Linked DNA regions of Homo sapiens: region 1 is linked to region 2. Evidence: fine-mapped expression QTL. Tissue or cell type: thyroid. Region 2 holds a variant in brackets; the other region holds the start of a gene. All regions are shown on one strand. Distances are between the middles of the regions. Region 1 holds the start of NPAP1 (nuclear pore associated protein 1). Region 2 has its middle 28 kb from the start of NPAP1.

Region 1 (15,673 bases), 28 kb after region 2:
TTTGTTTGCTAAAAACTTTGACTATTTTCCGGAGTTTCTATAAGGTTAGTAGAGCCAGTTTCTGTTTCCTTCTTTGGTGTTTTTGGCGTTTCCAGAGCTTGGAGCTTCCTAGTCTGACATTTTGTTAATGTCACTCTTGTTGATTAGTCCTTTCATTGAACCTTTTAATGTGTTCTTCACATTCATTGATAATAGGACAAAGACCATTCATTCTTCAATGCCATTATTTTTCACCCACATTCTAAAGACAGTTTCTATGATACCACCAAAAACTTATTGTTAAACGCAACGTAATAACACAGAAAAATCTTGGAGTTTAGAGTTCATCAGGACTTCATTGGAATTCTGGTCCACAATGTATTCGTTTTTGGATCTTGGACAACCATCTTAAGCTCTGCAAGTCTTAGGGTAGTGAGTTTATCCCATTACCTTCACCTGTAATATAATCACATTACAATTTTGATTTAAACTCAAGCTTAGACCAAAAGCTAGGTTTTCTGTGACTTCTCCCCTGATTAACTCACAAGCCATCTCTCCCTTATTCAAATGGCTTATCTTATGAAAATCCCATAAGCGCTTTTATGCCTCCTTTGAATTAGTATAGTATTTCTTGTTTGTATCACTTATATGTCAGTTGCCACTTTGTAACTAGAAATAATTTCTTCTATTTGTTCATGTCTTGGCACTTTCTTAAGAATGTGTTCCTCTGGAAGAAAAGTCATGTCTATCTGCTAATTAATCTATTGTATATTTATTGACTGTTTCCTAGACATTGTGTTAGGTTCTGTTTATAGATGATAGTGAAATATAATTCCTCCTCAGAAAGTCACAGTCTTTTTGGGAAAATAGATAAATCAAGCAGCCTATGTATCAAATAGTTTTGCATTTCCCACAGATAAAGTGATTAATAGGTACAATAAATTCATGTATCATAAGTAAATATATAAATGCTTATTTGGTATTAAAATCCAGTTAACCACTTTTCTATTTTGAAATAGAAATTTTCTATTTTCTCCTTGGTTTGCTCCTTGCCATCTGGTATAAACTTCAGATAGCAAGAAGCAAACCTCAAGAGGTTCAGAACTTTAGTTCTGAGAAGTATCTAGAAGTTCAGGTGATTACTTGGCATTTATACAACTTGCTTTACATGAAAATACAGCTGTAAATCTCACAAGGTTAGGTGATCTTTTAAGAATTTCAATATGTTCTGCTATTTGTTGGAAGACCTGTAAGAATAGCCCACCTTTAAAATGCAATTTAATATACAACAGGCTATGTGTTAGCTAAATGAGCTCAAGAAATGAAGGAAATATGTTTTAGTTCCATCTATTTTGGACCCCCAGTCGAACCATCCACTTCTGCTCTATCTCTGCCATTTTATCTTCTATAAAATGGAGGAAGCTCTAAAGACATAGTTAAAGAGATGCTACACAGCTTCATATGTAATTGTCTTTATTTGTTTTAGAATACCAATGACATATAAACAACTACTACAATACCAATGACATAAAAACGACTACTACGAAGAATCAAGTATTTTTTGAGTCAAGTAGGACTCTGTCAAAACAAAGAGAAGTAAAGGGACCCCAAAATGACTATGACTTTCTCAAGGGGACACAATTATTTTTTGATAGATCTGGAACAAGAACCTAGATATCCTCAATCCCACTTTATTGTTCTTTCATTGGGTTCTGAACACAGATAAATAAACAGAAAATAAAATTCTTGTCTTCTACATAACTGGTGCAGGTCCTGGCAAGATTGAAATTGGAATACTGAGTATTAAGAAGTAATTGAAAAATTGTGAAAGCTAAATGATACATACCAGGTACATAGGAATGTGTAGCACCTGAAGATGATTCTATAGGTGAGCAGAACTGGTAATTCAATGTGTGTGTGTACTGTAGTTTACAACAGGATAGTTAAATTTCATTTTCTGATACCTTGAAGGCTCCTCCCAAACATACAACACTAAATAAATATTTAAACTAGATCACATTTAGTTCTGCATGCTTATATACATCAATAAATAATTTGTTTTAGTTACCTTGATTTTTAATTTATACTTGGTTATTTCCAAACACAAAACAGAGGCTGGACATAGGTATATGGGAGGCTGCAGAGATAAAATAAGCTCACTTTATTCACTGCCAAAAGTAAGATCCTAACAACCTCTACATACCTGAATGTGTTCAGACCAACTATCTTCATTTTACAGGCAAGCCTTCTGGAAAAATCAAGCTGAAGAAATCTTAATTGCCCAATGTCCCTTATCTGTTTCAATAAGTATAATTATATAATATCAGAATTCTTCTGAGTGACAGAGAAAGGCAGCCTGGCTGAACATCCCCATGGCCATAATGCAGATATGATGGTCTCCAGCTATTTTAGAAAGACTGGAGCCTACTATTCCCATTACTTATCTTAATAGAGAATAACATTTAATATTCTCTATGTTTTGTGCTGGATAAATCTTTTTCCCTTTATTAAAATGAATGACCCATAACTGAGTCTGTAGTTTGTACATTGTTGGAAGCTGAATAAATCTCTGTGGGTTACCAGAATCTTATTAATAAGTCACAGCTTTCTAGGGAGGATCTGCTCAAAAACTCAAAGTTTAGTTTTACATTTATAACTAAATTATGATACAACCTTGAGCAAGTTAAGCTCATCTGTAAATGAAGAATACTGATACTTGCTACTTCAAAGGGCTCTTGTAAAGCGTTCAATAAATTAATAGAGGTGTATACACATGCATATATTTTAATACTTACACATACTTTAAAAGAACCCTACATAATCCACTACAAAAATTTTGTGATGTGTCTCCCTAAACTAGTTCCCAACTACCCTGTTAAAATTATTTAAATGAACAAAAATCTATATATTAAGATACACATCAGAGAACTCCAAATACTGCTTCTCACAGTACCCTGTCCCAGCCATGCTGCCTTCCTCTTCACACAAATCTTCAATTCAGAAACCCTAGGGATTAATTCACTAATCAACCCACACCTTAATTCATTCAAGAAAATTATTGATACCCTACTAAATGTCAGGTACTGGTTTACAGGTATATTCAAGGAATATTAGCGAAAAAGAAAAAGTAAATATTCCTACCTTCTATTTGGGTGGGGGGGAGTAAACAAATGAATATGCAAATACATAAACATAAGTGTACACATGTAAATTAAATTTAAATAAATAGGTAAAATAAACAGTATATCAGATATGTCCTAGAAAGAAATATAATGCAGGGAAGGGAGTTGAAGAGTGTCAGTTGGTGTGGGGGTTGCAATGTGAAATTATGTGGAAGGTGAAATTTAAGAAGAAACATAATGGGATCCTAGGAAACAATGATGTGTATGTCTGGAAAATGAGTGTTAGAAAAGAAATGGTAAAGAAAACAGTCAGATGGGACAGCCATGGGCAAAAGTGTTCATATAGTATTCAGGTAACAGAAAGGATGATGTCACTGTGTAGGGGAAAGAGGGATCAGAGTGGAAAGAAGGAAATGAAGTCAGAAAGGAAATGGAGAGCTCAGATTGCTAGGGTTTTGGAAGCATTTTGAGTACTTTGGCTTTTGCTTTGAGTAAGCCATTGAAGAGGCTTGGGTGATATTATCTGACTTACGTTTCAACAGGATCTCTCTTGGAGATCATTTTGATTAGAGACTGTAGGAAATTAAGGACAAGATTGGGGAGACCAGGCTGGGCACGTTGGCTCACACCTGTAATCCCAGCACTTTGGGAGCCCAAGGTGGGTGGATCATTGAGGTCAGGAGTTGGAACCAGCCTGGCCAAGATGGTGAAGCCCCATCTCTACTAAAAATACAAAAATTAGCTGGGCATGGTGGCAGGTGCCTGTAATCCCAGCTACTCAGGAGGCTGAGGCAGGAGAATCGAATCCAGGAGGCGAAGGTTGCAGTAAGCCGAGATCGCGCCACTGCACTCTAGCCTGGATGACAGAGCAAGACTCCATCTCAAAAAAGAAAAAAAAAAAAAAAGATTGGTTGATTCAAACAAGCGATTTACTCAAAGATGTGCCTTCTACTCAGTAAAGACATAGATCAGGGGTTAGCCAAAAATGACCCACAGATCATTTTGTATGTCCTGTGAGCGAATAATGATGATTACATTTTAAAAGTGTTCCTGAAGAATAAAAGGGAGGAGGTAAAAGAGGAGGAGGAAGAGGAGCTAAAGAAACTGCATTTGGCCCACAAAGACTTAAATATTTAAAACCTAGAAAATGTTTGCCAAAACCTGAAATAAAGCATCTGACTTTTCTTGAGGAAGTAGGTCCTCAATAAAATTGGAAAGAGGAATACATGAGTAAATTAGTTGCTGAAAATATTGTGAAGTAATAGATATCGAGAAATATCTATGGCTTCATCCCCACCCTCAAAAACAATGCCATTCATTTCCATTGAGCTAATGAAAAATGCAGTTTGGTTTTCAAAACAGTTAACCAAAAAACACGGTCTTACATAAAAAAAATCATAAAATTTATATAGCAACAAAAAAGCATTTTCACAGAAATTAAAATTTTACAAAGCATTTCTATATCGATTATGTAATTTAATCTTCCAATCAACTCCATGGGATAGGTACTATTTCCCCATACAGAAATTACCATATCCTAAATCCTTAGTGATTGATTCCTCAAGAAAAATTAAAGTCTTGAATGCTACATCTGTTAATACTAAGGGTAGTTTTCTCCTATGGGAAGGTTGGCTTCTAGAATGAACAGGAACTTTCAGTTCAAGGTGACAGACCAGGAACACATATTTACTTTGTGTTCCTCCTGAAATTGTACTTAAATAAAAGTATACAAATACCAAAATGTAGTAGACCAACGAAAGCCAAGAGATTGTGGAAGTCATCAACCACAGAAAGGTGTTGATACATTTCTGAAAAGCAAAAAGTTAACTGGAGAGGAAATAGATGAAACAACCAAGGAAAGGCTACTCTAAGAAGTAGCAGCACAAAGTCTGTCTGTCCTTGCTGAGCCCTGGTTACAGTAAAGGGCGGAAGAGTGTGGACAAATGTGAATCTGAAAGAGCCAATTCTTCTAAATCAATCCTGTGTGGCTAACTGGGCGTAAATTTAAAATACAGCCCAGCAGCCATTTGCTGACTAGAGTTTATACCTGCACTGGCCAATTGGAACTAAGCCAATGTCTTTCTTTCTCTTTTTCTTTTTTTTTTTTTTTTTTTTTTTTTTTGAGACAGAGTCTCACTCTGTCACCCAGGCTGGAGTGCATTGGCATGATCTTGGCTCACTGCAACCTCTGCCGCCTCACCCAGTGAAGTAGCTGGGATTACAGGTGTGCACCACCACACCCAGCCAATTTATTTATTTATTTATTTATTTTTGTAGTTTTAGTAGAGACAGGGTTTCACTGTGTTGCCCCGGCTGGTCTCAAACTCCTGATCTCAAGTGATCCATTCACCTGGGCTTCCCAAACTGCTGGGATTACAGATGTGAGCCACCACAGTGGGCCAGAACTAAGCCAGTTTCAAACCTTCATTTGCCTAAAGAAACTTATGTGGGAACCTGGACAGCGAACTTTTGCTATAAAACCCAAGTCTTCCCTTTGTTTTCTGGAATGCACCTTTGTTTTGCAACAGAGGATGCAAACAGTTCACTGGAATAAAGTCTCTTTCCTCCACATTCCTTTTTCAGATAACTTTTCTTCACGAGAGAGGAGACTGAAATTATTTTAGGGAAAAAAGTTCATTTAATGAGGTTCATGAGTCAATAAAGTCCAAAGGATTCAGTGTGTCCTCACATTAACTCTGTATGACTTACAGTGGGTTGTTGGTGAAAGTGTTCAACTATAGGGTGCTAGGTATGGTTTATTGTCACTACCACAATTCTATACAAAGCTAGCCACCCAGAGATTCATTTGATATGACTGGAGATTGGTGCTTTAAAAAATTATTAAATTACAAGTAATCTCACCTGGCAACTATAAATTGTTGCTATTATCACAGTATTTATATAATTATTAAATTAAATTTTTGGAAAATATTTTGCCTTGACAAATTTCATCTCAACATGTTTGCGTCTGCCAAGTCAAAAGATCTCAGAATAATCAGTTGCCATCTAATGTTATTTTGCCTCACAAACACAAGGAAGATTTTATATTCAAAAAAAGCATCTATTCCCATTTGACAAGAAAAATAAAGAGGTGGATTTTTCTGGAATACCCTTGTCCAAATTTCCTTTTATTGTCCTGAAGCCCCAATATTCATTATTTGTTTAATGCATTTTTCCTGTTTGGGGGAAAATGCTGTAATTTATTGTTTTCAAATAAGCCTGACATTTGATTTTGTTTCAGAGTTCTTGTAGGAAATCTTTGTCCAAAACTTGTACCAGATTGTTCTTTTTGTTTAAACAAATAAAATCAAGAGATTATTTTTTATTAAACTCTCCTCAAATGATATCAAGAGATTACAGTTAAATGCCATAATTGTAAACAATTTCTCGGTTCCCTGAGAGGTTAGGAAGGACTTATAATATGTCTCCTCTTTTTAAACAGAATTTGGGTCTGAGCAAAACTTTGTGTCCTAGAAACATAAGCTTTGTTGGGTATGGAAGCCCACATTTACTCTGACATAGTATAAAATATATGAACAGGGGGATAAAAAGGATTTTGTAGTATGTTAACTAGGTTTGATGTTATTTTAAATCGATTTTTAAACTAAAAAATACATTAAAATATTTTTACTGATCTCTGATTCTTGGTTCTGAACCTTCCACATGTCCTATGTCTGGCACACAACATTAGCCCAAAGAGAGCAAAGCAGTCCAGTTAAATAAACCAAAGAAACAAGATTAAAACTAGATAAGGTCATGTGTAGGATTTTCCAAATCTTTCTTGTCATGCTGAAACTTCCAGCTCTTAAAACAGTAACACATATTTCCTTTGTCCTAAAAACCAATATTAAGTCTCCTTCCTTGGGCATAAGAATATGGATAGTTATACTTAGGTGACAGTAATGTGTGGTAAAGAGTGGGCCTTGCTGGCATGCGGACAATGACCAAATTGTATTGATCATATTTTAATCGAATACATTGCTCCACTACTGACTTGCAAATACATGATGAATTTGCTTTCTAACATATTCCAAGAAGGCCAGAGAACTGGCTTATCCATTTGGATTAATCCACTGGTGAATTTCTTTCGGGATAGGCCAAAATGGATCTGGACTATAATCTTTACATATTTAGATCCTTCAAACTAGACCAAAAAGGAAATCTGGGCTGCAAGGCTCAATTAGAAGAACAGTGTGGGATGCTGCTTTGCTGACTATTGGGGGTCGCTGCCCCATGTCTTCAGAGGAGACTGGAGCCCAGTGCCTGCCATGACCAACTTATGAGGTGAAGTAAGGGCTTCCCCCTAGGAACGCATGTGCTTAATACAGATGTGCTGTGTGCTAGGTACCCTAAGGACTACAGGAAATAATGAGAATACATGATGTGTCCATAACAAGGAGGCACACAGGCCACGGCACCAGCTCTGGAATCACACAGCCCAGGTTCGAAGCCTGGCTAGGCCACTGTCATATCAATGACCCAAGGAGCAAGCAGCCTAAGGCTTAAATGTTGTTGCTGTTGTTTGTTGTGGTTTTTTGTTTTTGTTTTTGTTTGAGACAAGAGTTTTGCTCTGTTCCCCCAGGCTGGAGTGCAGTGAGGTGATCTCAGCTCACTGCAACCTCCACCTCCCGCTTTCAAGCGATTCTCCTGCCTCAGCCTCCCTAGTAGCTGGGATTACAAGTGCGTGCCACCACGCTCAGTTAATTTTTGTATTTTTAGTAGAGATGGGGTTTCACCATGGTGGTCAGGCTGGTCTCGAACTCCTGACCTCAGGTGATCCACCCGCCTTGGCCTCCCAAAGTGCTGGGATTAAAGGCGTGAGCCACCGCGCCCAGCCTTAAATGTTGTTTAAAACAAATTTGTGAAAAGAAGTGAAGAGGCCCTGCCTGCCAGGAAGAGATGTGGTAGGGCGTAGCATCTAGTCAGGACAAGGCACCACGTCCCCTCCTCGGAAACCCTCACGGCCTGGCTGGTGACCCTGGCGCCACAGAGACGGCACACCTGGCTCCAGGCAGCACAGAGCACTGCCAAGGTCCTAGAGGAGGCTGGCAGGATATAGGTTGTCCTGTGCTTAACTTGAAGCAGATGTGCCCTCTGTGAACCGGGGAATGGGGACGGCCGACACAGGGCCACTGCGTGCAACAGCGCCGGGCCAGGGCTAAGGAACAGGCAGAGCCGGCGCCCAGGTGACAAGAGCTCTGGCGATGGGCCCGCAGGCCCCAGCAGTTCCCTCATAGAGGCCACGCGGTGCAACACCTGCCACCGGCAGCGGGGCTTCCGGGGGTCCTGGGGCAGCTGGGGCCGACGGGGCGTCGCCCTTTGCCCTCTGACCCCTGCCTTTTGCGCCCCCGCTGGCGCTCCCTGGTTCTGTGAGGAACCTCGCGGCGGCGTCGCAGGCGTAGAGCCAGTCAGTTTGTGCTTGGTCGCCAGAGGAGGCGGTGGCTGAGGAGAGTTGAGTCCACTGCTGACCCTGTTTTACGGTAGGAGGCACGGCTAGCTCTAAATGGGCAATTTACTTAGTAAATTTAGACCCGGGTGCCGCCGCCGGCCCCTGCCAGGGCCAGGGCGTGGCGCCCCCGCTCCCCTGTCCCGGGACGCCTCCCCGCCCGGTCGGGCTCACTCTGTACCCACCCCGCGCCCTTTCCGCGGCCTGTTCCGCCGGAACGCCCGTCGCAGGCCTTCAGCAGCCAGCATCTTCGTCGCCCCTAAGAGGCCGTGTCCTCTCCCTCGGGCTGCGGCCGCCCCTCTGGGGGTCCTGCCGGCTGTGGGTTGGGGGCTGGCCATCAGGAAGACACCCATGCTGCCTGCTCGGAACCCCCCGAGGTTTGGACACCCCAGTTCCGTAAGGATCCCTCCTCCCAGCCGCATGTTCACTCTCCTGCTGCCTTCACCACGTGAGCCGGCGGTCAAGGCCAGGAAGCCCATCCCAGCCACTCTCCTGGAGGAGACCGAGGTGTGGGCCCAAGAAGGGCCCAGAAGAGTGAAGAAGGATGAGGATCCGGTGCAGATCGAAGGGGAGGATGACGAGAAAAGGACCCCCCTTAGCAGCGGAGAAGCATCGTCCACATCCAGGTCCCAGGGCACCCAGGGAGACGTGGCCTCCTTCAGATGCAGCCCTGGGCCTCTGGAGGGAAATGTCTACCACAAGTTCTCAGAAAACAGCATGAGTGAGAAGGCCCAGGCGTCTCCAGCGAGCTCCTGCTTGGAAGGCCCTGCCATGCCCAGCACACACAGCCAGGCCGGATGTGCCCGGCATCTTGGAAAGCCTGATCCGGATGCAACAGCGCCCCCTGAGCCAGCCGTTGGCTGCTCCCTGCTGCAGCAGAAGTTGGCTGCGGAAGTGCTGAATGAAGAGCCACCGCCCAGCTCCCTAGGCTTGCCGATTCCGCTGATGTCCGGAAAGAGGATGCCTGATGAGAAGCCTTTCTGTATTCCTCCAAGGAGCGCTGCTCCTCCCAGAGCTGCCCGCAACAGGCCCTGCAAAAGGAAAATGTCGATTCCATTGCTGCTGCCGCTGCCCCCTTCACTGCCATTGCTGTGGGATCGAGGTGAGCTTCCCCCACCTGCTAAGCTCCCCTGCCTGTCTGTTGAGGGAGACCTACACACCTTGGAGAAGAGCCCTGAGTATAAAAGGAATAGCAGAATCTTGGAGGATAAAACAGAGACCATGACAAACAGCAGCATCACCCAGCCTGCCCCTTCTTTCTCCCAACCTGTGCAGACCACAGACTCCCTGCCCCTGACCACTTACACTTCCCAGGTCTCAGCTCCTTTGCCCATCCCTGACTTGGCTGACCTGGCTACTGGACCCCTCATCCTGCCTATCCCTCCACTTTCCACCACACCAAAAATGGATGAGAAAATAGCATTCACAATCCCTAACTCTCCTCTGGCTCTTCCTGCTGACCTTGTTCCCATTTTGGGTGATCAGTCTAATGAGAAAGGAGGCTCTTATAATTCAGTCGTAGGAGCAGCGCCTCTCACTTCTGACCCCCCAACACCTCCTAGCTCCACACCCTCCTTCAAGCCTCCCGTCACAAGGGAGTCCCCAATATCTATGTGTGTGGATTCCCCTCCTCCTCTTTCCTTCCTGACTCTTCTTCCAGTCCCTTCCACCGGGACCTCAGTTATCACCAGCAAGCCTATGAATTCCACGTCAGTCATTTCCACTGTCACAACAAACGCATCTGCCCACCTAACCTCACAGACTGCGGTAGACCCTGAAGTAGTTAATATGGATACTACTGCCCCATCTCAGGTTGTTATTTTCACATCTTCCCTAAGCTCCAGAGTGAGCTCTCTCCCAAATTCCCAAATACATTGCAGTGCAGAGCAGAGGCACCCGGGAAAGACATCAGTCTACACATCCCCACTTCCATTTATATTCCACAATACCACCCCAAGTTTTAACCAACTCTTTGGAAAAGAAGCCACCCCTCAGCCCAAATTTGAGGCTCCTGATGGGCAGCCGCAGAAAGCTTCTCTCCCCAGTGCCTGTGTTTTCCTGAGCCTTCCCATCATTCCTCCTCCAGACACCTCCACTTTAGTGAACAGTGCCTCTACAGCATCATCATCCAAACCTCCCATTGAAACCAATGCTATGCATACCACTCCTCCTTCCAAGGCTGTCATCTTGCAGTCTGCCTCTGTCTCCAAGAAGTACCTCCCATTTTACCTGGGGCTTCCTGGTTCTGGGAACACACAACCCAGCGGCAACACTGCCTCAGTCCAAGGCTCCACCAGTTTGCCTGCACAGTCAGTCAGGGCACCAGCTACAGCTTCCAACCATCCTTTAAATCCAGGAGCCACCCCTCAACCCAAATTTGGGGCCCCTGATGGGCCGCAGCAGAAAACCTCTCTCCCCAGTGCCCATGATTTCCTGAGCCTTCCTATCATGGTTCCTCCAGACACCTCCACTTTAGTGAGCAGTGCCTCTGCAGCATCGTTATCCAAGCCTGCCATTGACACCAGTGACATGAATACCACCCCTCCTTCCAAAACTGTCATCTTGCAGTCTACCTTTGTCTCCAGGAAGGAGGAGTACATCCGATTTTATATGGGGCTTCCTGGTTCTGGGAACACACTACACAGTGACAGCATTGCCTCAGCCCAAGTCTCCACCAGTTTTCCTGCACAGGCAGATAGGAGACCAACCACAACTTCCAGCCATCCTTTAAATACAGGATCCATCTCTCATTCCACACTTGGGGCCACTGATGGGCAGCAGAAGTCTGACAGTTCTTTTATTCTGGGGAATCCAGCAACCCCAGCACCAGTTATAGGCTTAACATCTCCTTCAGTCCAGCCACTGAGTGGCAGCATAATTCCACCAGGTTTTGCAGAGTTAACATCACCATATACTGCATTGGGCACACCTGTTAATGCTGAGCCAGTCGAGGGTCACAATGCAAGTGCTTTCCCCAATGGCACAGCAAAGACTTCTGGATTTAGAATTGCCACTGGGATGCCTGGCACTGGAGACAGTACCTTACTGGTTGGAAATACTATTCCAGGCCCACAAGTGATTATGGGACCTGGAACCCCTATGGATGGTGGGAGCATTGGGTTCAGCATGTCTGCCCCAGGCCCCAGTTCCACATCAGGAGAACTCAACATTGGACAAGGACAGAGTGGGACACCCAGCACCACTTCTGTTTTCCCATTTGGTCAGGCAGCCTGGGACCCAACTGGCCACAGCATGGCTGCTGCACCACAAGGGGCTAGCAACATTCCTGTATTTGGATATACTTCTGCTGCCGCCTACATTCCTGGTTTAGACCCACCTACCCAGAATTCATGCAGTGGTATGGGAGGGGATGGCACCAGATCCATAGTTGGAGGCCCTTGTGTTCCTGCTTTTCAACAGTGCATCCTGCAGCACACATGGACAGAGAGAAAATTCTACACTTCAAGCACCCACTACTATGGACAAGAAACATATGTTAGGAGACATGTCTGTTTCCAACTTCCGTAAGAGCACCTGTGGTTCACCTGATCACACCACATCAGTTGTGGTTGTAAATACCAGCATTATCCTTTTGTATGGTCATGCTTCTAGTTTCATCTTCATGCCAAGCACCTGCCATGTACCTCTCCAGAACTCAGGTTGTGCACCAGGAGGGGACAACAACATCCCTGTGCTCCCTTTCTCTGTCAGTACACATGGGTCCCACCTGGACAAAACACAGGTGGTGCATCTGCAGTGAATGGCAACATATCTTTAATTAGAGGCCCTTGTGTATCCACCTACCAACAAAGTACCTAGGGCCCACCTGGACAAAACACAGATGGTACCTCTTCCAGGAGTGTCAACATTCATTTGATAGAAGGCCCTCATGTGCCCATGTATCAGCAAAGCACCTGGGGCCCACCTGGACAAAGCACAAACCATGCAATGAGGGACAGCAACACAACGGCTGTGACTGGTTGTACTTTTGGTCCCCCATTTACACAAAGCACCTGAGGCCCACCTGGCTAAATGCAGGTGGTGCAATAGGAGATAGCCCCAGATATTTGTAGGGAGAAACCTCTAGTCTCCCTTTCAGTAAAAATACTATGGACCTGCCCAACCAAGGTGCTCCTTTTGACTTTAGAGGAACCAGCATTGTTTTTGTTTTGGTTTGTTTGTTTGTTTGTTTGTTTGTTTGTTTGTTTTTGAGACGGAGCCTTAGCCCAGGCTGGAGTGTAGTAGCACAATCTCGGCTCACTGCAACCTCCACCTCCTGGGTTCAAGCAATTCTCCTGTCTTAGCCTCCTGAGTAGCTGGGACTACAGGCATATGCCACCACACCTGGCTATTTTTTATAATTTTAGCAGAGACAGAGTTCCACCTTATTGGCCAGGCTGGTCTCAAACTCCTGACCTCAGGTGATCCACCCACCTCGGCCTCCCAAAGTGCTAGGATGACAGGTGTGAGCCACCATGCCCAGCCTAGAGGAGCCAGCATTGTTAGTTAAATACTTGTGTTTGGATGGTCCTGGTCAGAGCACCTGTGCCTGTGATGGAAAGCAGCCACTAGTGACACTTGTACCTGCCAAGGCCTTCATAGGAGCCACCAACTCATTTTTTACTCCTATCAATGGTCTTAAGAAATAAGCACTCTCCCTGCACATACAGTTCTCATAAATTGACATTGTTCCAGGAGGAATGGGCTCAGTTCCCTCAAGGTTAAACTTAACCTGCTCTCTTCCTACAGAAGCTGGAGGCCCAAAACCACAGACAGAGAGAGAGAGAGTGTGTGTGTTTGTGTGTGTGTGTGTGTGTTTATTGGTGAGTGTGGAGCAGATGAGCCCAGTCAGAACCGCACTGTATTTTAGTGGTCTTCTGCACTGTGGAGGGTAGAGGAAACCTGGCTTGACTGTTAACTTGGCTGACCCTACCTCTGGGCCAGTTCTCTCTAGTCATGGACAGAAAGGCAAAATTCCCGACTTTGTGGACCCTATATTCTAGTTGAAGGGGAGAAAAGAAGCAAAAACATGGAAATTATCTGGTAAATTAGCCAGTAACGAATGCTATGAAAAATAAAGAAGTACATGGAGGATTGAGATTGTAGATAGAAGCAGGTGTTTCAGTTTACACTGTGAACAAGCCTCACTGGGAAGGTAAATTTAAACGAAGCCTAGAGAGAAGCAGTTGAGCCAGATATATGAGCAAAGACCTTTCCAGATAATAGGAGTGGTCATTGCAGAGGCTCAAAGGAAGGATCCCTGGTGTCCTCATGGAGCAGTTAGTAAGGAAATGTGGCTGGAATGGAGTCAGCAAGTGGGAGGGAGGGATAGAGAAGAGGACAGAGGAGAGATGTGAGTGGAATTCCTTCCTCCACTTTTTACTAATTGTGTAATAACAGTTGACTCAAACTTCAAAAGTCTCAATGAAATCAGTACTTTTACTATGGCCTGTTTATCTCATAAGATTTTTGAAAGGATAAAATGAAATAATATGGAGAAATGACTTATAAGCTTTTGTTGTAATTTGTTATATACATAGGGATGGATAGACGGATGGATAGATTAGATGATAGATAGATAGATAGATAGATGATAACGTTATGGACTGAATGTTTGTGTACCCCCAAAAATTGATATTTTGAAGCCTAACTTCCAGTGTGATGGTATTAGGAGGTGAGGCTTTGGGGAGGTGATTAGGTTTAGATGAAGTCATGAAAATGAAACCCCCATGATGGGATTTGCGCCTTTATGAGAAGAAATACCAGTGCTTTCTCTAATTGCCATGTGAAGGTATACCAACAAGGTAACAGTCTGTAAGCCAGGAAAAGAGTCCTCACAAGAAACAGAATTTGTCTTTATCTTGGACTTCCTAACCTTTAGAATTGTAGAAAATAATTGAATGTTGTTTAAGCTACCAGTCTGTGGCATTTTTTGTAGCAATCAGAACTGACTAATAAAGATAGATAGATGATAGATAGATACATAGATAGATGATAGAGATAGATGATAGATAGATAGATAGATAGATAGATAATATACATATATATGTATGGTCAATGACTGAGTTCCTTAGGCAATGGTGCCCTGATTGCCTTTATTAGGCAATTCAAATAGAAGAATAGAAGAACCCCCTTTTTTTTTTGAGATGGAGTCTTGCTCTGTCACCCAGGCTGGAGTGCAGTGGCGTGATCTTGGCTCACTGCACGCTCCACCTCTCGGAAGAACCCCTTTTTATTAGCATAAAAGCACTTACTTTTATGAAGCAAACACATGTAAAAATATGATAACAGAGACTAAAACATTTATGAGATTAGGCCTGAAAGAAAACAATCACAGAGAAATTACTGAATTCCTCTTGGCACCCTGGGGCCTGATTCATTCGCTCTAAATTGTTTAGTACAGTTCCAGAGGATCAAAGCTCCTGTTTCCTGGCCAGATAATCACCTAACTTTTGTAATCAGAACTGCCTTTCAGAAGTAGAGTGGAAATCCAGTTTTCTTCTAATAGCCCTATACCCTTGCAGTATTACCAGGGACAAATTTTTTAAAATTCATACTTCTTGACATTTTTTAAAAGGCTTCAAGCTAAATATTATGATCCTGGTAAGACAAACTTTGAATAAATGTGTGAGAGATACAAAGATAATTTTTGTTTTCATGTTTTGATGCACTTACACAACTGAAACTATTTCTAAATATTCTTTTATTTTTTATTAAGATAAAAAGCAAACATAATATCAATTTAAATAATACTGAAAGTCAACCTTCCTACCACAGTTCCCTCCTCCAGAGATAGTGTTTAGCTACTTTGATGTCACTCCCATAGTTCTGAGTTTGCTTTTTTACTTCAACTATTATGTTATCTTACAGATGTCATTGTTTTTCCTAAAACTTGAAGTGCCTTCCTTTTTTTCTCCTTGAACTCTTTTCCCATAAAAAAAAAATGTTTTTGGTTTCTAGAATTTTCAAATAGTATTGTTTACTTGACTGAATCCCTTCCTTTTCCAGAAACCTTGAGCCTCCTCCACTGGTTTGGGAGTGGTAAGACCAAAGTAAATGTAAAAAGTAAAGTAGAGGTTCCTCTTCAAAGACTTTCCTCCCTATCTAATTAGAAATAAGTAGTAAC
Region 2 (15,673 bases):
AGCTGCTTTGCTTACCTACTCAAGCCTCAGCAATGATGGGCGCCCCTCCCCCAGCCTCACTGCTGCCTTGCAGTTCAATCTGAAGACTGCTGTGCTAGCAATGAACGAAGCTCCTTGGGCATGGGACCCTCCGAGCCAGGCGCAGGATATAATCTCCTGGTGTGCCGTTTGCTAAGATCGTTGGAAAAGCGCATTATTAGGGTGGGAGTGACCCGATTTTCCAGGTGCCGTCTGTCACCCCTTCCCTTTGCCTCGCCCTGCTTTGCCTCACACTCAGTGGGCTGCACCCACTGTCCTGCCCCCACTGTCCAACGAGCCCCAGTGAGATGAACCTGGAAATGCAGAAATCAGTTGGAAATGCAGAAATCACCTGTCTTCTGTGTCACTCATGCTGGGAGCTGTAGACTGGAGCTGTTCCTATTTAGCTATCTTGGAGACTCATCAGAATTTCAGAGCTCAATGTCTCCAGCCTCATCAGTGTTTTCAGAGGTTTCCATTCCAATTTACAAGATCCCATTCTTTCCCAACTAATGCCCTCAATTGATAGTAGGTCCCTTGCTAGACCAGGAGTTCAACTTTCATTGTAATTTAGCCAATTGTGTGATTTGGGCTTGTCTTTGGATTTTAGCAATTTTGGCCCTGTGGCTACAGGAGAGATTATTCTTGTAATAGAGCAACTTAGCTTCAAACTGCATTTTAAAACTTTTTTTTCTTTCCTCCTTTCTCTCCAGTCCCAAAATGTAGCTTTGAGACAAACTACAGATGTGTTTCACAGCCTCAGAATGTTTTTGTTCCTCCTTTCTTCCCAGTCTCAAGATGTGGCTTTGAGAAAAACTAGAAATACGTCTTCTTTCGTCTTGACATACAGTCTCAGAATGTGCTGTGAGCCTCCGCTCCCTTTCCCTTTCTTGGCTTATGCTCCCAAGCCTTATGCACATTTATTCACCTAGATGCTCGTTAAGCACATACCATGCTCTCTCATCTGATATTTTTTTTAGGAGCTTCAGAGGCTGCGTCCTGATACAGACCAGACATCTCCGGAATTCCCTTTCTGACAAAAGATTACTTCAAGGCCAGAACCCACTCCTGGCTAAACATTAACTATAAGAGTGACTGCCATTGATTTGTAACTTGGTTGAGCCCACCATGGTGCTGGCCCCTTTGCTAGATGGAACAATAATTCAAGACAAGTCACTGGAGTGGGTTACATCACCTGACACCTCTTAGTTCCTTGTTTCTCATGCATTCCAAACCCCTCTCTCTAAAAAACTCCATATTCCCTCCACAAATTGAAAAGTGGAAAATTTTGGAAAGAATTCCACCCACTCTTCCCTTTGCTAGCACATATATAAAGCCCACTCTCTTTCTGTCACAGCTTGCTCTTGTTGTTTTGGCTTTTTTCTGTAAGTGGTGAGCAGCTGGACCCTTTTGCTGGTTACATTTTCACTTAGAGCACACTTAGAACCTCTAAGCCTACTTATGTCAAGATGGATCTCAAAATTTGTTTTTTCTTCATCACTTTGCCTAGCAACATTAGAAACAACCAACTAACATAATTGTATTCCTTGGTTTTCCAAGTCTGATATGACCCTCACCATAAGTGTAGCATTATCAAAGGTCCTAATTAACAGATGATGATAATGGAGGAATACTCGTGGACAAGATGAGTTAAAAAGTGATTCAGAAGAGTTTGGCCTGACTGAGAGAAATTTTGGAATACTTTCATTCATGTATTTTGCTTTTATATTCCATCACATATGATCATAGGAGTGTTTTAAGACAAATAGCCACATTTATAAAAGTTCAAAAGTTATTTTCAATAATTATGAGATAATTATGCTGGCAGATGGAGCCGTCAGAGGGAGCCGTAGCCAGGTTGGCCTTGGTGAGTGAAAGTCCCTGTTGGTGTGAACACGCATAATCTTCATCTCTGGCACTGTGGTCACTTTACTCATTGGCTACTTGTGCAATTATAAGTGATAAATGATAATTATAAGTGATAAGTGCTATAGTTTTTCACTGGTTTTATGCTTGTGACATAAAATAATGAAGTATTTATACGTGATGCACATGATACTTCCTGCAAGTACTTGGAAAAAGCAGTCACTATTAGCAAATGCTGATGTAATGTGTACTACTGAACAATGATTAGACTACACATTTTATGTATATTAGTTCACTCAATTCTCACATCATCTCAAGAGGCAGACAGACACTATTAACTCTCTCAAGTTCTAGTTCTGAATCTGAACCAAAATTCTATAGGAAGAGGAACAATAGAAGAGATTCTGAAGAATGAGAAGTGAGGCAAGCAAACAGGAAAAAGGAAAGAGAAGAGAAAAAAGTGTGTCTGTAGCACAGGCTAGGGTGTGAGAAGAGGGCAGTGGTATTAGCAGACTGCTGGGTTCAGTGAAATGTAAGGATTGCAGGAACAGGAAGGGCAGACCATGGAGGGACTGAGCCAGTGAGAGAGGGCAGCTCAGGCAGTGATGTAGCAGCAACTCAGAGAGGAATACATTCTGTGTAGAGGAACTTTAAATGTCTAGATCTAGTTTCTTGAAATGTTACTTTAGCCCATGTGGTCTGCCCATCAGGAAGACAGAACAATTGAGGATGGTCGCTGCCCTCTGGGGATAGACATGAGCACTATCAGGAGGCTTTGAGTGTGGGGAGGACAAGGATGAAGACAGGCAGAGAGGACCCTAGGCAGGCTGACTGACAGTATCATGGACTTGGATGTTCCTGTTCACTTCTCTTTCTCCATTACTCCAATTCCCCACTTTACCCCACCTGCAGGTTCCTGTCCTGTGTAGAACACCATTGACATAAATGACTCCATCTTAGAAAAAATACTCCATCTGGCAGCTTTGCATTTCTCTTTGAAGAAAATCCCAGAGACAGCCCACAACCCTTCTGCCATTGCAGCTGCAGTGGTACTGCCCTAACTGCCCTCAGGCAGAGAAAGGAACAAATGGCCTAAGCACTACACTGGCATCTCCAGCACACTGTAGCCACCATATGGAGAGGAGCCCAATTTCTCTTCCCTGCGAGTTCCCACCCCCAACTCTTCAACAGTCAAGGCCCTGGCTCAGGACCACAGAGCAGCTTCCCCACCCATTGTTGAGCATACCCACTAGTAGTGGCTCTGTGTTTCCCTGGGGAAGTACTCCCAGTGGCAACTGACAGCCCCCGTGCCAGTGCCACAGCAATGGCTCAGCCCTTGCTTTCCTCAGTCTGGGGAAGAAACAAAGAGCCTGAGGGTTTCACCTGAGCTTCCAGTACACTGCTGATGATCAGTAAGAAATTATCTGCAGGTACAAAACTTAATGGTAATAGTAAGCTCACAGAAAAACACAGAATAGTGTAACACTGTAATTTTGGTGTGTAAATTATTCATAAGTAGAAAGACCAAATGATTAACCAATCAAAATAAAAACTTTGGCAATTTTTCAAGACATAGACTGCATGTGTAAGACATAAAGAAAAATAACAAAAGTTAAAAAGTGTAGTATGAAGTTAAAATGTAGAGTTTTTATTAGTTTCCTTTTTGCTTGTTAGGTTGTTTCTGCAATCACTGCTATCAGTTTAAAAACAATGGGTCATAAGATAGTATTTGCAAGCCTCATGGTAACCTCAAATTGAGAAAAACATATGATGGATATATACACAAAAAAGCAAGAAATTAAAGCGTACCACCAGAGAAAATCACCTTCACTAAAAGGAAGACAGGAAGGAAGGAAAAGAAGGAAGAGAAGAACACAAAACAACCAGACAACAAATAGCAAAATGGCAAGAGTAAGTCTTTACTTGTCAATAACGTTGAATGTAGATTGACTAAACTCTCCAGTGAAAAGACAAAGAGTGGCTTAATGGATAAAAAAAAGGAAGACCCAGTGATCTGTTGCATACAAGAAACACACTTCACCTATAAACTGAAAATGAAGGGATGGAAAAAAGTTATTCCAATGGAAACCAAGGAAGAGCAGGAGTAACTTAGGGTAATCAGACAAATAGATTTCAAGAAAAAAAAACTATGGGAAGAGACAAACAAGGACATTACATAATAATAAAGGGGCCACTTCAGCAAGAGGATATGACAATTGTAAAAATATACCTATCTATATCTATATATATAGATACATATGTCTATATATATAGATATATATGTCTATTATATAGATATATATGTCTATATAGAGATATATGTCTATATATAGATATATGTGTCTATTATATAGATATATATGTCTATTATATAGATATATATGTCTAAATATAGATATATAGATAATATAAATATAGCTATATCTCCAGCTTTGGAGCACACAGATGTATAAAGCAAATATTATTAGAGCTAAAGAGAGAGACAGATCCCAATATAATAATAGCTAGAGGCTTTGATACCCTACTTTTAGTATTAGGCAGATCTTCCAGACATAAAATCAACAAAGAAATATTAGACTTAATCTGTACCATAAAACAAATGAACTCACTAGATATTTGCAGAACATTTTATTCAATGGCTACAGAATACACATTCTTCTCCTCAGTATAGACAGACCATATGTTCACAATACAAGTCTTAAAATATTCAAATAAATGAAGTAATATCAAGCATCTTCTCTGAACACAATGAAATAAAACTTGAAATCAAAAACATAAGGAATTTTGGAAACTATACAAACATATGGAAATTAAACTACATGCTCCTGAACAACCAGTGAGTCAATGAAGAAATGAAGAAGGAAATTGAAAAATTTCTTGAAACAAGTGATAATCAAAACACAACATACCAAAACTTACAGGATACAGAAAACGTGGTACTAAAAGAGAAATTTATAGATATAACTACCTGCATCAAAAAAGAAGAAATAAATAACCTGACCAAAAAAATATAACTAGATTGTTTGTAACACAAAAGATAAATGCTTAAGGGAATGGATAGCCTATTTACCATGATGTGATTATTATATATTGCATGCCAATATCAAAGTATCTCACGTACCTCATGAGTATATGCACCTACTATGTAGCCACAAAAATTAAAAACTAAAAACAAAATTTAAAAACCCCCAAAAACAAAAGGCCATTCCACCAATCAGTCAAGTCAGGTGCATCAAGATTATGAGTAGCATGGTAAGGCCAGTGAATTCCATGAGCAAAAGTCCATTGTCACACTTGTTTGAGTTTGAAGTAAGTTCCTTAGTCAGAAGGAATGCTGTGTGGAATACTACGACAGTGGATAAGGCATTCTGTAAGTCCAAGGATGACATTTTTGGAAGAAACTTTGCATACAGGGAACATAAATCTATGTCCAGGGTAAGTGTCTGTTTCAGTAAGAACAAAACTCTGTCCCTTCCATGATGGAATCAGTCCAATGTAATCAACCTACCCTCAGGTGTCTAACTGATCACCTCAGAGAATGGTGTCATATTGTGGGCTCAGTGTTGTTCTCTGCTACAGCCAGATTGGGCATTCAGAGGTGGCTATACAAATAAATTATATATCAGTTTTATTTTGTGTTGTTTTAATGATTTTCCATTTGTTTATTCTAACAGATAACAGTTTCTTGAACAAAGGGAGGGAGAAAGAAATTAGGATTTTTTTTTATTGTATTCACACTACCTGTGAAGCAGTATGATCTTTTCAGGAACGGAGCTTAGACCAATTTTAGATGTAGTTTTGCAAGCTATATGGAATTCTATTGCATAGAAAGCCCCAATTTCTTGCTGGCTACTGACAATAGGCTGACTAAATTCCTTCCCGAGTGAGCTTCTTGCAAGTGGAAGAATTCTTCATAAAATCCATCAAGGCTGGGCACGGTTGCTCACGCCTGTAATCCTAGCACTTTGGGAAGCCGAGGCGGTTGGATCACCTGAGATCAGGAGTTCGAGACCAGCCTGGCCAACATGGCAAAACCCCATCTCTGCTAAAAACAAAAATTAGCCAGGCATGGTGCCAGGCGCCTATAATCCCAGCTACTCAGGAGGCTGAGGCAGAAGAATCACTTGAACCCAGGAGGCAGAGGGTGCAGTGAGCTGAGATCGCACCACTTCACTCTAGCCTGGGTGAAAGAGCAAAACTCCGTCTCAAAACAACAACAAAAATCCATCAAGGGAGAGTCAGCCAGCAGGACAGAAATTATAATCTAATGTAACATAATCATTCAAGTAACATACCATCACCATTGCAAATTTTCCAGGCAGAAAATCAATAAATTGATTTTCACAGCAGGCAAGTCACGTTTTCTGACCACACACACAGACAGTGAATTACAGTTCAAGGTTATGTATACTTACAGGTGAGGACCACTGGGAAAAATTTTAGCATCTGCACATCACATTAGGTCTTCTCCATTCTGCAAGAGTTTCTTACTTATTTTTCATGACCTTTGCTCTTCTGAAATGTACTGGTCAGGCATTTTGTAGAATGACCCACAATATAAATTCGTCTGATAATTTCTTATGATTAGACTAGTGATGCGTAGTAAATTAAACACATTCATCTAAGTTTAAAGTCAAGAAAAACTAAACAATATAGTCTTTCAAATTACGAAGAGATAAAAATAATAAAGAAAATTAGGTAATGCCAAAGACTGAATTCACAATAATAGTTACATTCAGTGGTTAAAGATGATGAAATTAAGGAGATACATTAAAGGGACATCAGCAATATTACTGATGTGATGATTTTTAAGCTAAACATTAAAGCAGAGAAACTTTTAAATTTGATAATATTTTTAGGTTTACAGAACAATTGCAAATATAGTAAAAGAGACTTTTCTTATGCTCAATGAAGTTTCCTTTTATTATTAAACTCTTAGATTTGTGCAGGACAGTATTCACAATTAAACTAAAAATACAGTATATAATCTTTAACTACAATTTACAATTTATTCAGATGTTCTCAATTTTCACTTAATATCCAGTTTCTGTTCCAGGATTCTATCCAGGGTACCATATCACATTTAGTATCTGTCTCCTTAGATACAGAGATGGTGACAGTTTCTCACCATTTCCTTGTTTGTGATGACATTGACATTCCTACTTTGGAATTTCTCTGATGTTTCTCTGATCATTGCCCTGAATTTGTGAATCATCTCTGATGATTGCAGAATCACAGAGGTAGTGCCCTTCTCCCACATTATATCAAAGGCAACATGCTATCTACATGCTATATCGTGGTTTATGTTAATTTAATCACCTGGATGAGTAGTTTTTTATCAAATTTCTCTAAAAACACCTTTTTTTCCCTTTCCATACTTAATGTTTAAAAAAGTGACTATATGCAACACACACTTAAGAAGTGGGGGATCATGCTCCACTCCTTATGAGCAGTGTGTCTACAAAAGTTATTTAGAACCCTCACCATAAGCATGTGTCTATTCTTCTTTGCTTATTAAATATTCAATAATTTATTCATATTAATATGAAAACCTGGATTTTTTTTAATTTTACCTATGCTAATGCATTTGTTTTATTGCTCTCATTGTTCAATGATGGCCATTGGAATGTCTTTCAGTTAGATTCTCTCATTTTGAAATACCCTCATGATTAGCGTTTAATTTACTGTTGGTTACTTGGATATTTGTGTTGTGGTTTGACATTTTCTTTAGTTCTGGCACTACTAGATGCTCCAGGCTCATTGTGTTTTATTCCCCACCCAAGCCTAGTATTCACTTTTTTTCATGAAACTCTAGTTTCTTTGAGTGGAAAATGAAATCACAAACTAAGATCTCGACACCGGGTATACTCATTGCTCCTGACATTCTTCTCTTTCTTCTTGCAGTTTTATCAATTTCTGCCTCCTATAGTTTACACTGTGTTATTAGGTGCATATGCTATAAACATTGTTATATCTTGTTGATTTAAGGCCCTGTCAGCTGACAAAGGAAAGAAATATATCTGTGTTTACTCATAAATATACACGTTTGCATAAATATTTCAGCACATCTATACATATCTATATGAAATTAAACATATGTTTATATTGCTTCCAGCACCACATGATCTAATTCATTACCTTATCAATCAATCTACTTATTCATTTATTTGTATGTAGTCTGAAACTCTAACAGTGACCAAGTTGATTCTGTTAACTTAATCATACCATCTTTTTGTTCCCAAAGAACCTTAGTTGAATTTTTGGTGAACGATATTAGAAACAAAGTTTGGGGCAGTGGGTATACTCCTTACCGCTAGGAATGGATTGATTCTATGATATGTCATCTGAGAGAACAAAGAAATGTATATGTGTATATAGTAACTCTCTCTCACATACACATATATGTGTGTGTGTGTATAATATATATGTATATATGATATTATTTCTAATACCATTCACCAAAAATACCACTAAGATTCCAAAAAGATGGTATGATTAAGTTAACAGAACCAATTTGGTCACCATTAGAGTTTTAGGCTACACACAAGTGAATGAATAGATAGGTTGATTCATAGGGTACTGAATATATACATGTATTTCTACATTTGTCCATATATATCTGGCTAGAATTAAGCATGAATTTCTACAAATGTCTTCAGCACTACTTGAATATAATCTAGTAAACATTAATCTTTCCACCAATTCCCACTACTTGCTATGTAACCTCTCACTCTAACAGTGAGACAGTTGGCCAACTTTATGTAATCAGTGAGTCCCAAAATACATGCAATGTGGTTTCAGAATTGGTAATTCACACCCTCATGGGAAAGAACATTACCAACTAGAGTACTTATGTACAAATCCTTTGACCTTTAGACAGGAAAGCTTATATTCTAGGTTTCTTGGGTTAGTCCCATTTGCCCCCATGCTCTTTATAAGGCATCTTTATAAATTTATTACACAATTATATTATTTTGTCTGCATTGTTCCCTGGGATCCTCCAAGTTATTAAATAATGCTTATTGTTTTTGTAAAGTTTCACTCTTTCTGATGTAAAGTTCTTCGGGATATGAAGAATAGTATCATTACCACACTATTATAGCATCATAGAAAATAATTTTAATGCTTAAAAATAAAATCTGTATTTCACCTCTTTGACCTTCCTCCCTCAAGACCGTACTACTATTTTTTAAATATCTCTATAACTTCATCTTTTCAATAATATCATATTAATGGAATTACACAGTATATACTCTTTTTCTAACTGGCTTCTATTTCTTAAGAATATGCTTAAGATTTCAGAAGTATATCTCTTAATGGTTTAGATTTGCATTTGACTAAGGACCAAAGGTGTTGAAAATAGTTTTATGTTCTTATTACACATTTGTATAGTTTCTTTGGGAAATGTTTATTTACACAACTTTTAATTAGGATATTTCCCTTTTTATTTTTAAACTGTAAGTGTTCTATGTCTTCAAACAATAGTCTCCTGTCGCTCATATTATTTGCACACATTTCTCCCATTCTTTGGGTTGTCTGGATTCCATACTTTGAATCAGTAAAGTTTTAATTCTGATAAAATGAAATTTACCTATTTTTTCTTCTGTCACTTTTATATTCGTATTAGGCCATTCTTGCATTGCTATAAAGAAATAACAGAGACTGGGTAATTTATGGAAATAAAAAGGGTTAAATTGGCTCACGGAACTGCAGACTGTACAGTAAAAATGGTGCTGACATCTGCTCAGCTCGTAGGGAGGCCTCAGGAAGCTTCCAGTCACAGTGGAAGGTGAAGAGGGAGCAGGCTTGTCACATGGTGAAAGTAGGAGCAAGAGAGAGAGAGCCGGGAGCCA[C/CA]ACTCTTTTAACAGCCAAATATCTCAGGAAATCACTCACTGTGGTGAGGACAGCATCAAGGGGATGGTGCTAAAGCTTTTTTTTTTTTTTTGAGATGGAGTCTTCTTCTGTTGCCCAGGCTGGAGTGCAGTGGCGTGATCTTGGCTCACTGCAGCCTCTGCAGTGCTGCTGCCTCAGCCTCCCGAGTAGGTGGGACTACAGGTGCACTCCACCACGCCTGGCTAATTTTTGTATTTTTAGTAGAGACGGGGTTTCACCACGTTGGCCAGGGTGGTCTTGATCTCCTGACCTCGTGATCCATCTGCCTCGGCCTCCCAAAGTGCTGGGATTACAGGCGTGAGGCACTGTGCCTGGCCCACTCATGTTTTATTTTTTAATTTGCTCCTTTCCCAATAGCTATAGACACTGGCTGGAGTCCATGATTCCTTCCACATCACTTTCATAATTGTGTACATGATATTTCTTTGTACTCATCACCCACAGTGTAGACATGCTTTGTCTTCTTACTCTTTAATGAGTGCTTACTAAAATTTTTTTCAGTTCTCAATGATGTAAAATAGTGCTGCCTTAAAAATGTGTACATACCTGTGCTGTAGTCAGCAGACATTTTTATATTGGCTTGTAAAAGGGGAATTGCAATATTGTATTTTTTTCAGCTAGCATAATACTTTTAAAATATTTTTACACTCCTGACTTTTTAGATTTTCATTTTGTTGACTTAGTCTATAATTTATCCTTCTCCCTATTATTTAACTGATCCACTGATGTCCATTGTTCTAGGCTGAAACTCTGACACTCCTCTGACTTGCTTTATATGTGAATAGATGGCTGAGTGTCCCAGCTAGTGAAGATAGGACTCCTCAAACTGGGTTGAACAGGGGTTGTCTCACCTTAAACCACCAACAGACACGAAGTAAGAAGAGATCAGAAAAAATCAGAACTCCAACAAACAGACTATGATTTAACTAGGGCTTACAATTTGGGGGGTCTTAATGACAGCATGATTAACTTCAGAGGAACACATTCTCCTGTGAAGGAAGCATCCCTGGGTGATTCTCTGAGATTCAGTAGAATATGATTCCTGTGCAAGTAATGCAATTTTCTCATTCTGGAAATGGGGATATCTGGAAAGATATTCGAGGTTTATGAAACATGAGCAACCAACAGAGCAGGACATTGATACTTCACAGTAATACTTTTACTGCACATTAATAGATGGGCATTTGTTTTCCCAAGTGTGTCAGCAGTCTATCTGTGGGCTTCCATACTGTACACAGAAAATTTTAAGGGCAAATATTGAAAAAAATAATTATATTAGAGCCTGGCACCATTTAATTTTATTTCACTGCATATAAAGAGCAGGCCTACACTCTGCAAAATCTATAGACTGTAACATTTATGTAGTGAGGAGCAAAGACAAGATTGTTCCCAAATTTAAAAGAAACAAGGTTTTCTAGGCAACAAATAGAAGAGATAAGCCTTACCAGTTTCCTCTTGTTGGAACTAATTGTGTTCTACTCCTATAGAAGCTCTACTTCCGTTATTTCACAATGTAGTGAGTTTATTCGCCATACTCAAGACGACATAGCAAAGACAAGTTCGTGTCACATGGGGTGGTTCAGTCTACTCACACACTTCATTCATCTAATTTCTAAGGAATGTTCACTTATCCTTGGGCTGGTTGCAAGATTGCTGTATCATATAAAGGCCTCTGTCTTTTTGAAGTCTGGTATGAAATGAAAGTGTTGAAAACCAAGTATATCCAAATGGCTTCCTTCTGTGTCTTTGCCTTTTTCTTCTAATCTATTCCCATATTTCTATGATCCATCTCTCAGTAATGATGGCAGATGGAAGATGGCAAAAATGCTTCTCCCATTTGTTCACTGGATATGGAGAACGGCTTGATTACATCAGAAATCTTCTCCAGACTCTCAGATCCAGCTTCTCCTATCATTGTGTCTTCCAAATCCATGCCACACCACAGCCTGGAAACTCCCTTGAAGTAGTAACTTGAGGCAATAGAAGAGCTCATGTCATTGTTTGACAGTTCTCAGGTGTCTCTATATTTTTTTTGTTGTTGTTTTCACATGTGGGTGAGGGATATCTAATCCCTACCAGTTCCTCCACAACATCTTGATTCATTCTGCCTGCACCTATTCAGTCATTTCTCTTCCCCCTTTCTGTATACTTCTAGTTAACCGTATTATGGTGAATAAGGAGTATTGTGGGTAAAACTCACAGAAAAAGACAGATAAGGGAACTGTCATGTGTTATACTAAAGAGAAGGTCGGAATTGACCAATGCACAATGTCTGTAGGAGTCTCATTGTGGGGACATACAGTATATGTCTCAACTGATATGCTCCTTACTACATAATGTATTTAAAGTGATGAATATCCTAATTACACTGATTTGATTATGCAAATATACCAAATATTCACATGTATCCCATAAATATGTACCTTCAATATGGAAAGGGTATGGAATCCTTTCCATAACCTTTATGTACCTCTGATATGGAAAGGATAATATCTCTGTCAGTTATACTACTATGCACACAATAGACTTATTTTACACTTGTTGAAAAAACCCTTTTAGAATTATAAAGGAACAAGTTTATTCACACACAGATGAAAACAATATTGTAATTAGATCATAAATGACTTCACAGTATCCTGAAATTCTGATTCTTATTGTTCTAGGTCAGATTTTTCACAGAGCCATAGATATCTTATCATCCTCTGTGGCTTGAAGACTAATGGCAATAAAACATTTCTCAATAAAGGAGGCTATACCATTGTCTGTGTGATTTCCACTTTCCCTGTTGACACTTATTCTGCCAGTTTTGATGTAGGTCATCTTGCCAGAAGATGAAAGCAGATTTCAGGTGAAGTTCATACATGTGTAGACATTAAAAACTGTCAAGGCTACTACCAGGCTAACAGCAATTGTAAAACTTGAAAACAAAACATGATTAAAATAGGTAAAATGCAATAAATAATAAAGATTTGAAAATATTTATTCAGAGAGACAAATTGATAGAACTGAAACTTGGAACACAAAAATACTTTATTTTGTCAAAGAGGGTAATGCTGTCTGTAGGGATAGTACAAGTGCAGATGTAGAAGTAGCCTGGCCCATGAGAGGGCTAAGAGGCTGGAGAAGAGGCTGAGGGGAAGACAGGGCTCACATCCTACCCTGACAACAGAAAGGAAGAAAAGAAACATGTTCACCTTCGAGTTAAAACCCTCTTCAGATTGAAAGAAATAGAGAGTTTATTGGGAAGTGGGCAAGTATATAGTTGAGGAGTTTGTGAGATTTATTAATTCATCAGTGTAATTCAATATAAAGGTGAATCTTCTGTGTTGCTATTTGTCCACTACAGGGGGACAACACACACAACCTTTTCATATTCTCTGATATTTCAGTCTGGTGAGGGTTCAGAAAACGTAACTGAAAGCTAAACCATAGGTGGAAGAGCTTCCCTTGGGAGCTGAGAGGACAGGCATCAGACTTGTGATGGAAGGGACAAGGAAGGCCTCCAGGAAAAGGAACAATGGAGGAGATTCTGAAGAATGAATCAAGCAAACAGGGGAGAGAAAAAGAAGAGGGAAAAGTGCATATGAAAAAAATGCTCAACATCACTAATTGTTAGAGAAATGCAAATGAGAACCACGATGAAATACTATCTCACACAAGTCAGAATGGCTATTATTCAAGTCAAAAATTGCAGATGCTGGTGAGGCTATGGAGGATAAGAAACACTTATACACTGCTGCTGGGAATATAAGTTATTTTAACCACTGTGAAAAACAGTTCGCAGATTTCACAAAGAACTTAGAACTACCATTTGACCCAACAATCCCATTACTGGCTGTATACCCACAGGAATATAAATAGTTCTACCATAAAGACACATGCATGCTTATATTCATTGCAGCACTATTTACAATAGCAGTGACATGGAATCAACCTAGGTGCCCATCTATGTTGGACCTGTTAAAGAAAATGTGGTACGTATACACCATGGAATACTATGCAGCCATAAAGTGAAGGAGATCATATCCTTTGCAGCAACATGGATGCACCTTGAGGTCATTATCCTAAGCAAACTAATGCAGAAACAGAAAACCAAATACCACATGTTGTCACTTATAATTGGGAGCTAAACATGGACTACACATTGACACAAAGAGGGAATAACTAAGACATTGGAGCTTAGTTGAGGTTGGAGGATGGGAAGAGGGTGAGAATCAAAAAAACTATCAAGTACTATGCTGACTACCTGGGTGATGAAATCATTTGCTCAACAAACCCAATGACAAGCAATTATTCATGTAACCAACCTGCATATATACCCCGAACCAAAAGACAAATATTAGAAAAAAAAACCAAAATCAATCAATTAAAATTATGAGAAAGGCTACAGAAAAACTAAAACTCACATCCTGAATTCAGAGACCAGCCATTTTATTATATGCAAGTATGAACTTTACCATATTTGATTTATTTCTTCCTGAAGAGCTATAGACATTGGCTGAAGTCCATGATTCTATATACCTTATTTTAAAAAAAATCTATATGACATTTACTTGTACAGTTAACATATAATACACATATGTATTATTTTCCTACTTTTTTATTAGTGATTAATAAAATTGTTTTTGGCTTTCACTGAAATAATAAATGCCACTCAGGAAATGTGTACTTCCATTTCCAGAGAGCCAATATTTTTGTCATGTGGTCTTGTAGAAAGGGAATTGCAATCTTATTTTTTTCTTATAAACTAGCATAATATTTTAAAATTTGTGACTTTTTATGCTTTTTTATCTTTTTATTTACCTTTACTAAGTCAATAATTTACCCACCTGCCTATTATTTTAGCCAATCTGTTGATGTTCATTGTCTTAGGCTGGACCTTTGACACTTGTCTGACACAGTCTATATGTGAATAGATGGCTGAGTGTCCTGGCTAGTGAAGATGGCATTCCTCGCCCTAAGTTGAACAGTGTTTTCCTCACCTGAAACCACGAAGACACAACAGCAAGAAGAGGGTATACATAATTCAGGACTCCACAGCAGATGAGAATTTGCCCACAGTGTGGAGGGCCCTAATGCCAACAGGACAGTGTTGAGAAGCACATATTTTCTTTTGAATGAAGCATTTCTACAGAGGGGGGTCTCTGAGACTCAAGAGCATATATATGCTATACAAATAATAAAATCTTCAATCAAATAGCCTAAAAATTCTACTCAAGTGGCTGCATTTGTTCATGATTTATGAGATGTTAGAAACCAATAGAGCAAGACAACTGATAGTTTATGGATGTTTTTACTCCAAATTAACAGAGTAGCTTTTGTTTTGCCAGCTACAGCTGTAATGAGGAGTTCTGTGATTTAACACTGTATCAAGATAATTTCAAGGCCAGATCTTGGTCAAGAACACATGTTTTGCCTATACATTGTGATTGCATTAGAACCAGGCACCATTAACCAAAATTTTACCGAATATGAAGAGCAATATACTCCATGCAAATAAAACAGCCTGTGGAATGTACATAGTGAAGGACAGAAGCAAGATGATTCTTGAATTAAAGCAAACTGGATGTTTACCAGGGAAGCAAACAGAGTAGATATACATTAACATTATCTTCTTCTTTTGATAATGATTGTGTTCTTCTCGTATAAATAAAAAGCTCTACTTGCATTATTTCATATTATATTCAGTTTATTGGCCACATATAACAAAATAACATAGAAAACCCAGGAGAGGGTCATATGAGGTGGTTCAGTCTATATATACATGTCATTTCTGACAACTCTAATGAATGACCACTCATCCTTGGGCTTGTTGCAAGACAGCCATGCTATGTAAAAGCATCTGTCTTTTTGCAGACAGGAATAAGATGAAGGATTCAAGGTCAAGTTTACTCAAA

Evidence for each region. PIP is the estimated chance that this variant, and not a neighbour inherited with it, causes the effect.
Region 1: it holds the start of NPAP1, and the variant in region 2 is fine-mapped to the expression of NPAP1 in thyroid (GTEx, PIP above 0.99).

The regions. Positions count from the first base shown.
Region 1 is chr15:24,667,264-24,682,936 of GRCh38, forward strand. It overlaps NPAP1 (nuclear pore associated protein 1), which reads left to right and starts at 8,512. Exons shown (of 1, transcript NM_018958.3): 1 at 8,512-15,673. The coding sequence starts at 8,605. The coding sequence ends at 12,075.
Region 2 is chr15:24,639,596-24,655,268 of GRCh38, forward strand. No RefSeq gene overlaps it. Among named protein-coding and RNA genes, the nearest start is that of NPAP1, 28 kb to the right of the region's middle. The variant C/CA (reference allele first, on the strand shown) is at 9,738.